Linked DNA regions of Homo sapiens. The protein of the gene in region 1 purifies or fractionates together with the protein of each later gene. This does not show direct contact. Each region holds a gene or a part of one and is shown on either strand. Other genes may lie near its edges.

What was found.
Region 2: the proteins of F8A1 (region 1) and RASA2 purify together in Homo sapiens (affinity purification with mass spectrometry, with the first as the bait; one large-scale study listed by BioGRID). This does not show direct contact.

The regions. Positions count from the first base shown.
Region 1 is NC_000023.11:154,883,754-154,889,306, reverse strand, and holds F8A1 (40-kDa huntingtin-associated protein), read right to left. Parts: upstream 2,953-5,553; 5' UTR 2,933-2,952; coding exon 1,817-2,932; 3' UTR 1,246-1,816; downstream 1-1,245. Other genes in the region: H2AB1 (histone H2A-Bbd type 1), read right to left, coding at 3,910-4,257.
Region 2 is NC_000003.12:141,490,027-141,494,466, reverse strand, and holds part of RASA2 (ras GTPase-activating protein 2), read right to left. Parts: intron 1-4,440. UniProt on the Homo sapiens protein: Inhibitory regulator of the Ras-cyclic AMP pathway. Binds inositol tetrakisphosphate (IP4).

The DNA of each region.
Region 1 (5,553 bases):
CCTTCAACCGCTTTTACAATAATTTGGGCTAGGCGTTCAGGGCTCCGTAGGACCCTTCCTGGCAGCCAAGTGAGAGAAAGAGGAATGATGGTGGAATGGGCCTCTCCTGTGCTTCCCATTACTTCCACACTGTCGAAATAGAAATAGAAGCAGAAAAGAACACCCTACAAGTCCCACCCATTTGGAGGCACTCAACTCACAGTGACAACCCTCCACACCTCTCCCCTGCAAAAAGACGCAAAACAAAAACACCTACTCCAAACTGTGTCCTTACATCTCAGCCCCGAAGATCAGGATTGTGTGCAACTTCGGCCCAAAGGATGCATTTCCCCAGGGTTGAAAGTTTGAGAAAGAGGCTATATTCTGAAGAGTTCTTGTTGTCACCATCAAAAGGATTAAAAAGACGCAATAAATAAGAAAACAGCGTAGTTGGGGGGCATGCTCCATTTGAGCCAGAAAGCCTTGGAAACTTAAGTGTTCTCAAACGGAACGCCATCCTGCTTTGGGGGAACACGGAGGCTGCCTTGCAGTCACGTGATCGCACAACACCAAAGGGCCACGCACTCTGATTTCACCTACTTAACTAAAAGTTGCAGCAAAATCCCTATTACAGGCCAGGCGTGGTGGCTCATGCCTGTAATCCCAGCACTTTGGGAGGCCGAGGAGGGTGGATCATTTGAGGTCAGGAGTTGGAGACCAGCTTGGCCAACATGGTGAGACCCCATCTCTATTAAAAATACAAAAATTAGCCCAGCGTGGTGGTGCACGCCTGTAATCCCAGGCACCCTGGAGGTTGAGGTAGGAGAATCGCTTGAACCCAGGAGGCGGAGGTTGCAGTGAGCCGAGATCACGCCACTGCGCTCCTGCCTGGGCGACAGAGTGAGACTCCATCTCGGGGGGAAAAAAAAAAAAAAAAAAAAAAAAAATCCCTATTACAAATAAAAGCTGTTGTGATCCAGACTGCATATACCTCTGCGAATGGAACCAGAACCGTGAATTCCAATGCAAATCGATGCATCGGCACCAGACCCGCTGCACTGGATGTATCTGCATTGCAGTCACCCGAGTACGGAGCACATCATAGATGATCTCTGCAGGTTCGTTGCCCACATAGGAGGCATAGCGCAAATTTCAAAGGAACGAATACATCCTGGAGCCCAAACAGCTATCTGGTTCTGCTGCTGGCCTCCTGACAAGTAGGTAAGAGAGTCACATTTTATAGACGACGGACACCAAAACCACACATGAGGAGTACAAGAGTAGCTTTATCATGGATTTAGGGCTGTGGTTACAAGGAAGCTGTAAGGAATAAAATGACTCCCATGAAGACGTACCGTGCGGACGAGTGGAAGGAGAAATTTGGCCATTACAAAGACACAGGAATATGTTAAGAAGTGAGGGGCAGGATGAAATCATCTAGGGTAGGTATTTAGAGGGAGGGCGCCGTGCAAAATAAAATCCTCACTATGAAACAAAGGCGGAGGCAGGAGGCTGCGTTAGGTGGAAGCAGCGGAGGAAGGAGACGAAAGGGATTGTCATTTTCATGTCGTGGCTTTTTAGAAGACAGCCATGTCCTCTACTCTGATTCTATCAAAATGTGTTCTCGGGGTGCTGGTAACGTTCAGCCAACGAAATAATTCCTATGGCGGCAGTAGGAATAACAAAACGCAGAAGCGGGAACGATGTCTTTTTATTCCTCCCCAGACGCAAACGTGGATGCATGAGGTTTGGTAACAGGCAAAGTCATCTGGTTAACGTGACTGATGCAAAAAGTCCAGGCCTGGGCAAAAAGAAGTCACTGGGTGAATGGGATGGATCAGACTCCCTGTCCTGAGGGGGAGATGGTTTCTTGCAGAACGAGGTGAAGGAGGTGGTTCTGCTCAGCAGTCAACAGTGGCCACATCTCCACCTGCAGCGACTTGATGGCTTCCGTGTCCTTTTCGTGGGTAGCCATGACCAAAGACTGGAGCAGCAGAAAGAGCTCCTCGGGAAGCTGGCCGCTGCTCTCCTGCCCGTGGCTGTCAAAAGCCTCCCAGGAGTACTTCTCCAGGGTCTGGGCGTGCTCCGGCAGCAGCTTGGCGGGCGGTGGTTGCAGGAGGAGCAGCAGCAGCACGCGGGACACCTCGCAGCGGACCAGCACGTCCGAGAAGGCGCCCAGGGCGGCGGGAGAGGGCGCCGCCGAGCCGGAGTTCGGAGGAAGCAGCGCGGCCGGTAGGGCGGGCGTCGCCCCGGGCCCGGGCTGGGGTGCCGGCGGCGGGGGCGGCGGCAGTGACTGCACCGGGTGGCTGCCGTGCTCCCGCGCCAGGCGCTGCATGCGCGTGAAGACCGCCAGGGCGCCGGTGTAGTCGCGCGCCAGCAGCTGGCAGGAGGCGGCCTCGCCAAGCGCCTGCAGCGCGGCCAGGGGCAGCTGGGGCAGCTGGAGCTGGGCGGCGCGCTGGAAGTGACCGGCGGCGGCGGCCGGCTGGCCCAGGTCGCGCAGGGCGGCGGCCAGCTCGAGGCAGAGGGCGGCGGCGGCGGCCGGCTGGCCCAGCTCGAGGTGCAGACGCACCGCGGCGCCCAGGGCGCTGGCGGCGGCCTGCAGCGGCTCCCCGTAGGCGGCGGGGCAGACCAGGCGCTGGCGCGCGTCGCGCTCCTGCCGCAGGAAGAGGCGGGCGGCCTCGGTGAGGGCCAGCGCCTCCCCGGGCCCGTGGAAGAGCGCCTGCTGGCAGCGCGCCACCGCCAGCTGGCACCAGGCCGCGTAGGGCAGACACTCCTGGGCGCGCAGCTCCCGGCCCAGCTGTCCGAACTGCTCGCCGGCCTCCGCCACGTTCGGCTTCCGCAGGAACCGCTTCTTCAGCTTGTTCGATACCAGCCGGTAGCGGGCCAGGAAGTCCCCGGCCTCGGGTCCCGGGCCGGCGCCGCCGCCGCCCAGGCCTGCAGCCGCTGCCGCCATGCTCGCCGCCCCAAGCACTTCCCGACGCGCCGCCGCAGCTGGCGGGCGGGCCGGGGCGGGGCGACGTGCCCTGCGTCCCCCTCGGCGGGCTGCCGCCGTGCCCGCGCCGGCTCCCCAGCCCGAGCCTGCCCCTTGCCCTGATGAGGTGCAAAGAGCGGGATCGGAGGCGGGGCCTGGCCGGGCTGTGAGCGGCGTATGCAAATCGAGGGTCTCGGGGATGCGGATCCAAGACCCTGGGAAGGTACGCGGGGCCTGGCGGGGCACCAGCTGCTGCTAGCTCGGCTGCAATGCAAGTGGTCTAGGTTGCTAAAGGCATCCCACAGCCTCTCCATCTGAACATGACCCAAACGAAACTCGTGACCCTAATTCCATGTCTGCGCATTTCTAGACTGTTGTCCCCCCCCCCCCCCGCCCCGACTACTCAGTCCTCCGTCTTCCGGTCCAGGGCCCCTTGCCAAGCACCGGGTCCACCTCTCCGTCCCCACCCCGGTTGCCTTAGAAGTCCGTCCTGTCGCAACACTGCAGTCATGGTCTTGAGGCCCACCCGCCCCAACGAACACCATCATGCTGAGGACTTTCCCGGGCAGGCCCTGACTTGCTCAGAACCAGCGGGGGTGTCCCCTTCCCACCCAGGGCCACTCCCCTGCACTGTCACCCGGAGAGACTGCTCCTCTGTGCCATCCCTGGCTCCCACCCAACCCCAGACCCCCACCACCTCTCCATCCCTCCAGCTGTGGAGGTCTCACAACCCCCCAACCCATCTCACCGCCCCCCCACCCCCACCCCAAGGCAAAGTGACTGAAGCGGGCAGATGGCTTCCTTGAAACATTTTATTGACAGAATTAATGAAGGCCCAAGACTTTGGGGCCTGGGTTGTGGGGGGAGGGTGTTTAAGGCCGGGGGTTCAGGCCGGGGGATTTGGGGCCGGGTGGGTGGACGAGTGGACCTGTCAGGTCCCAGGGGCCGGGTGTCAGAAGCTAGTCCTCGCCAGGGGCCACTTGAGAGATGGTGGTCGTGTTGAAAAGGGTGCTCAGTAGCCTGTCGTTGTGAACCACCATGTCCAGCAGCAGGGGAGTGATGTTCCGCTCTCCGCTGTTCTGGGCCTCGTTGCCCGCCAGCTCCGGGACCTTGGCCGTCAGGTACTCAATAACCGCAGCGAGGTAGACCGGCGCCGTGCGACTCAGGCGCTGAGCGTAGTGGCCCTCCCGTAGACTGCGCTCCACCTGGCTCACTGAAAACGAAAGCTCCGCTCGGACGGTGCGAGAGCAGGTCCGCCCCCGGCCGCCAGCACCGGAGGACCCTCGGCGTCTCCTCCTCCTCGGCATGCTGGGCGTTGAGTGTGCTATCTCGGCTTGGCCCAGCTAGGCAAGATGGCTCTCAAGAGGACAGTTACCGCGTCCAGTACTGTGTATCCTAGCGACCAGGGCCCAGCCCCTCATTGGCTAGGGAGCCGAGACCAATGGGCACGCACATCCGGCGACGGGCACGCATGTGGTGACGGCCCCTCACAAGGGACACACGTCCGTCAGGTGACCTCATCACTTTCCCATTGGCCTCGAGGGAGCAGGCCTGGGCCTAGAAGTGGCTGGAGGGCCGTGGGGGTGGGGTGGGGCGGGGCAGGGGGAATCGCGCTGGTGACCCTCTCTTTGCCAGTGGGAACTTTCCCTTTCTACTGGATGGGAACACCGTGGGAAAGACAAAGGGGTGGGCGAGGGGAGGACGGGTACCACGCCTTCACAATGTTGCACATCCATCACGACCACCTAGTTCCAAAACGTTTTCAACACCCCGAAAAGAAACCGAAACCCCTGTACCTATAAGCAGTCACTTGCCGCACGCCTCCTTCCACACCACCACTACCAGCCCCCACACCCTCCCACACACACCCCCTGCCCCCGCCCATACACACGTTCCCGATAGTCCCTGGCAACCCCTAGTCCATCTGCTTTCTGTCCATAGAGGTTAGCCTGTTCTGGAGATTTCCTATAGATGGAATTATACGACCAAATGTGAGGCCGTGTGTGTCTGGCTGCTTTCACTTAGCGTAATGGTTTCATCAGGGTGCATCCATGTAGAGGCATGAATCACTACTTCCTTCCTTTGAATGACTGAGTACGATTCTGTTGTATGAATAGGAGGCCACATTTTGTTTACCCACTCGTCAGTTGATGGACAGGTTATTTCCCCCTTCTGGCTATTGTGAGTGGCACTGCCATGACCATCTCTCTACAGGTTTTTCTTTGAATATCTCTTTTCAGTTCTTTTGGGTCTATTTCTAGCAGTCAAACTGCTGGCTCGTGTGGTAATTCTGTTTAACTTATTGAGGAACCACCAAACTGATTTCCACAGCAGCTGTAATCTTTCGCATTCCCAACAGTAGTGCATGAGAGTCCCAATTTCTTCACAGCCTCATCAAAACCTGTTTTCTGTTTGCCTCATTTTGTTTTGTTTACAGTAGCCATCCTACTGGGTGTCAAGTGCTATCTCATGGTGGTTTTCATTCGTATTTCCCAAATGGCTAATGATGTTGCTGTGGTTTGAGTGCATCCCCCAAATTGTGTGTCTTGGAAACTTAATCCCCAAATTCACATGTTGATTGGAGGCGCAGCCTCTGAGACGGT
Region 2 (4,440 bases), on another chromosome or scaffold:
AACCCGGGAGGCGGAGGTTGCAGTGAGCCAAGATCGTGCCCTGGTGACAGAGCAATCCTCACTCTCATTTAAAAGTGCAAATTAAAACTACAAATTAAATGTTCCTTTTTATTTCATAGACCAGTAAAGATTAAGAAGTTTTAAAATACACCCTACGTGGGTATAAAGAAATAGGCAGTCATACATTGCTGGTGAGAGCTTAAATTGCTATAGTTTAGCATTGTCTTTCCAAAATAAAAATGCACATATCCTTCAATTCATCAATTTAACATCTATCTAGAAATGTATCCTACAAAAAGACACTCATATTAAAAATGACATGCTTACAAGGTTATTCATTGTAGTAATGTCTGTAATAGCAATGACTGTTTACAACCTAAGTGTCAACTAATAGGGGACTGGCTAAATAAACTGTGGTACAGCCAAATGATGAAATATTATGCAGTTGTTTAAAAAATAAGGCAGATCTCTCTTTATGTGAATGTGAAAAAATCTTCAAGCTATGTTGTTAAGTGTAAAAAAGCAAGATACAGAAAAATGTATATATTTTGCTATAATTTGTATGTTGGTGGAAGGAATATATTAGTGCACATAAATTTATGTTTGTAAATGCTTAATTTCTGGAAGAACACACAACAAAAAGGATATAACAAATTGGTAATGCTTGCTTCTTGGGAGGGAATGGCTAGAAGATAATGAAAGGAAGGAATACTTTTCAATGTATATACTGTTTTGTACCTCTTGAATTTTGTACCAAGTGTTCATATTATCTAATCAAATAGAATTAATATATCAAATATATATGCAAACAAACTAAAATCTCACTGTAACTATACCAACCTTTCTACTGATACCTTTTAAATGATAGCACAGCAGGTTGCCATCATTTAGGTAGGGTATGTGGCTAATCTATTTGTGACAAAAGCAGAAATTCACTATCCTAGCTGCCCAACATCACCCCCTATGGAACTTTTGAAACCAGAAATTCTGACTTAGTAGGTCTGGGGTACAGTCTGGGCATCATAATTTTTTTAGTTCACAGGTGATGGTGACAGACAGTCAGAACTGAAAATAGCTGAGGTAGACCATGGCACAAGTAACTAAACATCCAGGTTCAATCTCCACCTAGGTCATAACCATAGTTTCATCACTAATCCTAACCACTTCACAAAGTTCTTAAGAAGGAACAGTTAAGAGTGTGTAGACGGCACAGTGAAAATCTTACCACCTCTCAATATATAAACAGATAAGTAGTATAATCTCTGTGTATTAAATGTAGTACATTTGCAACATTCATAGTAATAAGTTAATCTCATATAGCATTCTAGAAAGAACTTTGATAATAGTGGACTAGTGCCGAACAGGCCATCAACTGTGTGACACTTGCTGTCTCTGTTAGATTCTTCATTTGTAAAATGAAGGGTAAGAACCTTTATTTTCTCTACCTTCATGTTCTCTACCTTCCAGCTTTAAATTTCTATAATTGTCTAAGAATACAGATGTCTAAAAACAGCTATTGCTTAGTATAGACTTTAGGATAAAATAGGATCTTTCATCCGATTCACAGCTTAGGCCCATTTCAGTCCAGTGGGTTAGCGTCTCTTAACAGACCCTTCGATATGTATTACGTGCTGCTGAATTAATTAACAGTCACAGAAAAAAAATTTAGAATTCAAACGCTCTTATCTAATAAATCTTAAATATTTTTAAAACAGTGAATCATGCAAAACAAGTGTACTAAATACATTTAAACACTAAAATAAAGCATCTGATGTACTGCCTTAAAGCAAATGGTTCAAGTTAAAAAGCAATAATCAAAATGGTAGAAGGGATGTTAAAGACCATATCCAAACCTCTAATTTTACAAGTAAGGAAATACGGGCTCAGCAAGGTTAAAGAATTTGCCCAAAGTCATTGTCATTAATGACAGGAAAACAAATTTGTCATTTATGGTTCTCTGTATGTGTACTGATACAAACTTTTAATGTTTATCACTTTAGATAGGGGTTTTTGATAACTAAAATTACATACAAACCTAAAGAGATGCCATAAAAATGTCTTAATACACATAAAAAGCTTAACTTACATGAATATATGACTATACAACATTTTGTTTGCAGTTCTCAAAAGAGAATAGAACTTTATTAGTAGCAAAAACATGTAATCTGATATTATTGTCAAATAATTTCATAAAGCACATTAACAAGGAAATAGGATTAGCAGCTATGATTAAAGGATAAAATGATGGTTTTATTCTGGCTATATTAGTCACTTAAGGATCTATTCAAAGAGTTCTAAGTTTTAAAAAAACAACTCTATGAACTCACTGAGGTTTACCTCCCGTCTTCCACAGAGCAAATGATTAGCAGACTGCTCTGTGAACTTTTACAAAGAACCCTTTTCTCCCCAGTTTCTATCCATCTGAAAGATGGATTCTTCCTCCATCCTAAATAACTCATCATCTCATTTCAAATATCTGATAAAAATGAACTCTTAGCATGAATACACCCTTTTTAATCTCTTCCACTCAACTTTACTGGATAGTCAATAAAATGTTTTGATTTATACTTCACAGAATTAAATAGACGGTTTTATTCAAACCTGTCATGTCAAATTAAAACACTTAATGTGTAAAGTATGAATATGAGATTTTCTTTTCCAAGCTCCAGGACCAATTAGTAACAATATTCAAATGCCCTAATAATAAGTAATCAGAGCATTAAGAAAAATTTAATCTTTTTCCTAACAAGGCAACTTTGGCATCAATTCAAACCTAAGCTTAGTGGGCACTGTGATTTTGAAAGGGATGAACTTCCTGATGCAGACTCATACAGTTTTCTCTTAATACTAACACCTTCTAGTTTTTTTAGGTATATAATTTATAAAATACTTTCATATCTAGTAATTATCCACAGGATAACATTGTGAGGTAGGGCATATTCTAAAGGCCTATTCTGTTCTAGGCATTGTGCTGACACTGGGATGATTTTTTAAAAATGAACAAGAATCAATTCTATCTTGAAAGAGCTCACAATCTAACAGGAGAAGTGAACAAATGATTTCTATGAAATGTGCTATAATAAGGAAATGAGCAAGGAATTGTGTTCCCCAGCAGCAGAGATGCTGGCCAGAGATGGCACTGGAAGTGTCTCAGAAGGTTTTGGGAAGGAGATCACATAGAGCAGGCTTTTGAGGGATGAGTAGGAGCTTCCTGACATAAAGATGGGGTGGAGTAAAGAAGAAAGACAATCCCAAGCAGAGGGAACAACCTGTATACAATGGATAGTGGAAAAGCATCATTCCCATTTAAAAGATGCGGAAGGTAAGCTTCAAGATAAGTGAGCTGGCTAACGCCATATGAAGATTAATTAACAACGTTTAAAGAAGAATATAGGTCTTCAGATTTTAATCAGCTTTGTACACCTGGAAACTCCAGTATACATTGGACAAGAACATCAGATGAAGATTAGTTTTTATCTCCTACTTTACTCCTTCCTAAGAGATGGTCGGTGTATGACCCAGATCCTGGGGAGTGAGAAAGAGCAGGCAGAGATGAGGAGGGGCAGAGTAGGGAGGGAGGCTTATTTAAACCTCATAACAACCCGTGAGATAGGTATTTTTACTATCCCCATTTTATATATGAGAATATGAAGGCCCAAAGACATTAACAAAAGTTGGAAATTAGGTGAAGATTCAAACCCAGGTAACTAACTTTTTCACCCAGCCTCTAAGCTCAAGCACTTAACCATACCCTATAGATCTTCCCTACTCTGTCAAATAACCCTAGGCTATTCTTGGTCTGAAGACACCAGAGAAACTAAGTGAGTTTTGGAACACATAGTCCCACAGATCTCGCACTGTACCACACATCTGAAAATTCACACAAAATTTTCCCATTTGGCTCTCTTATTGATCTGGTATTCCTTGAGTAGATAAGCCCACACATATGGTGGCATGGGTGCTCTCCGCAACATTTTTACAATCTAATGTAATTGGATAAGAGGAAACTTAACAAGTGCTAATCAAAAAGGAGGTCACCAAATAACAGCATGAAGCCTGAAGATACATAAAGGAGGAAGCCCCAATCCCTCTTTTCTGTTTGAATACGGTTTTTTTTTTTTTTTTTTTTTTGAGGGGAGGAGGGAGCATGCAAATGTGTTTCAGGTGTTCTAGCATACTTGCTACTCGCTACACAGGAGTGCAGACCGAAGAATGGAGTCGAGTACACCCCTAATTTCCTTTATCAAGGGTTCATATGACAACCTTAGGATATCAAACAACCAAACTCACCTCTTGAAAAAGTTTAAGGAAGCAGACAATTCAGAACTGTCATGGTTTCCTAGCGCAAACTGCAGCAAATCCAGGGTTGCTGACAATATTTTGTCTTATAGATGGATCTCGAATTCCCTGGGTTCGTTTGAGCGCATATAAAACACCTGA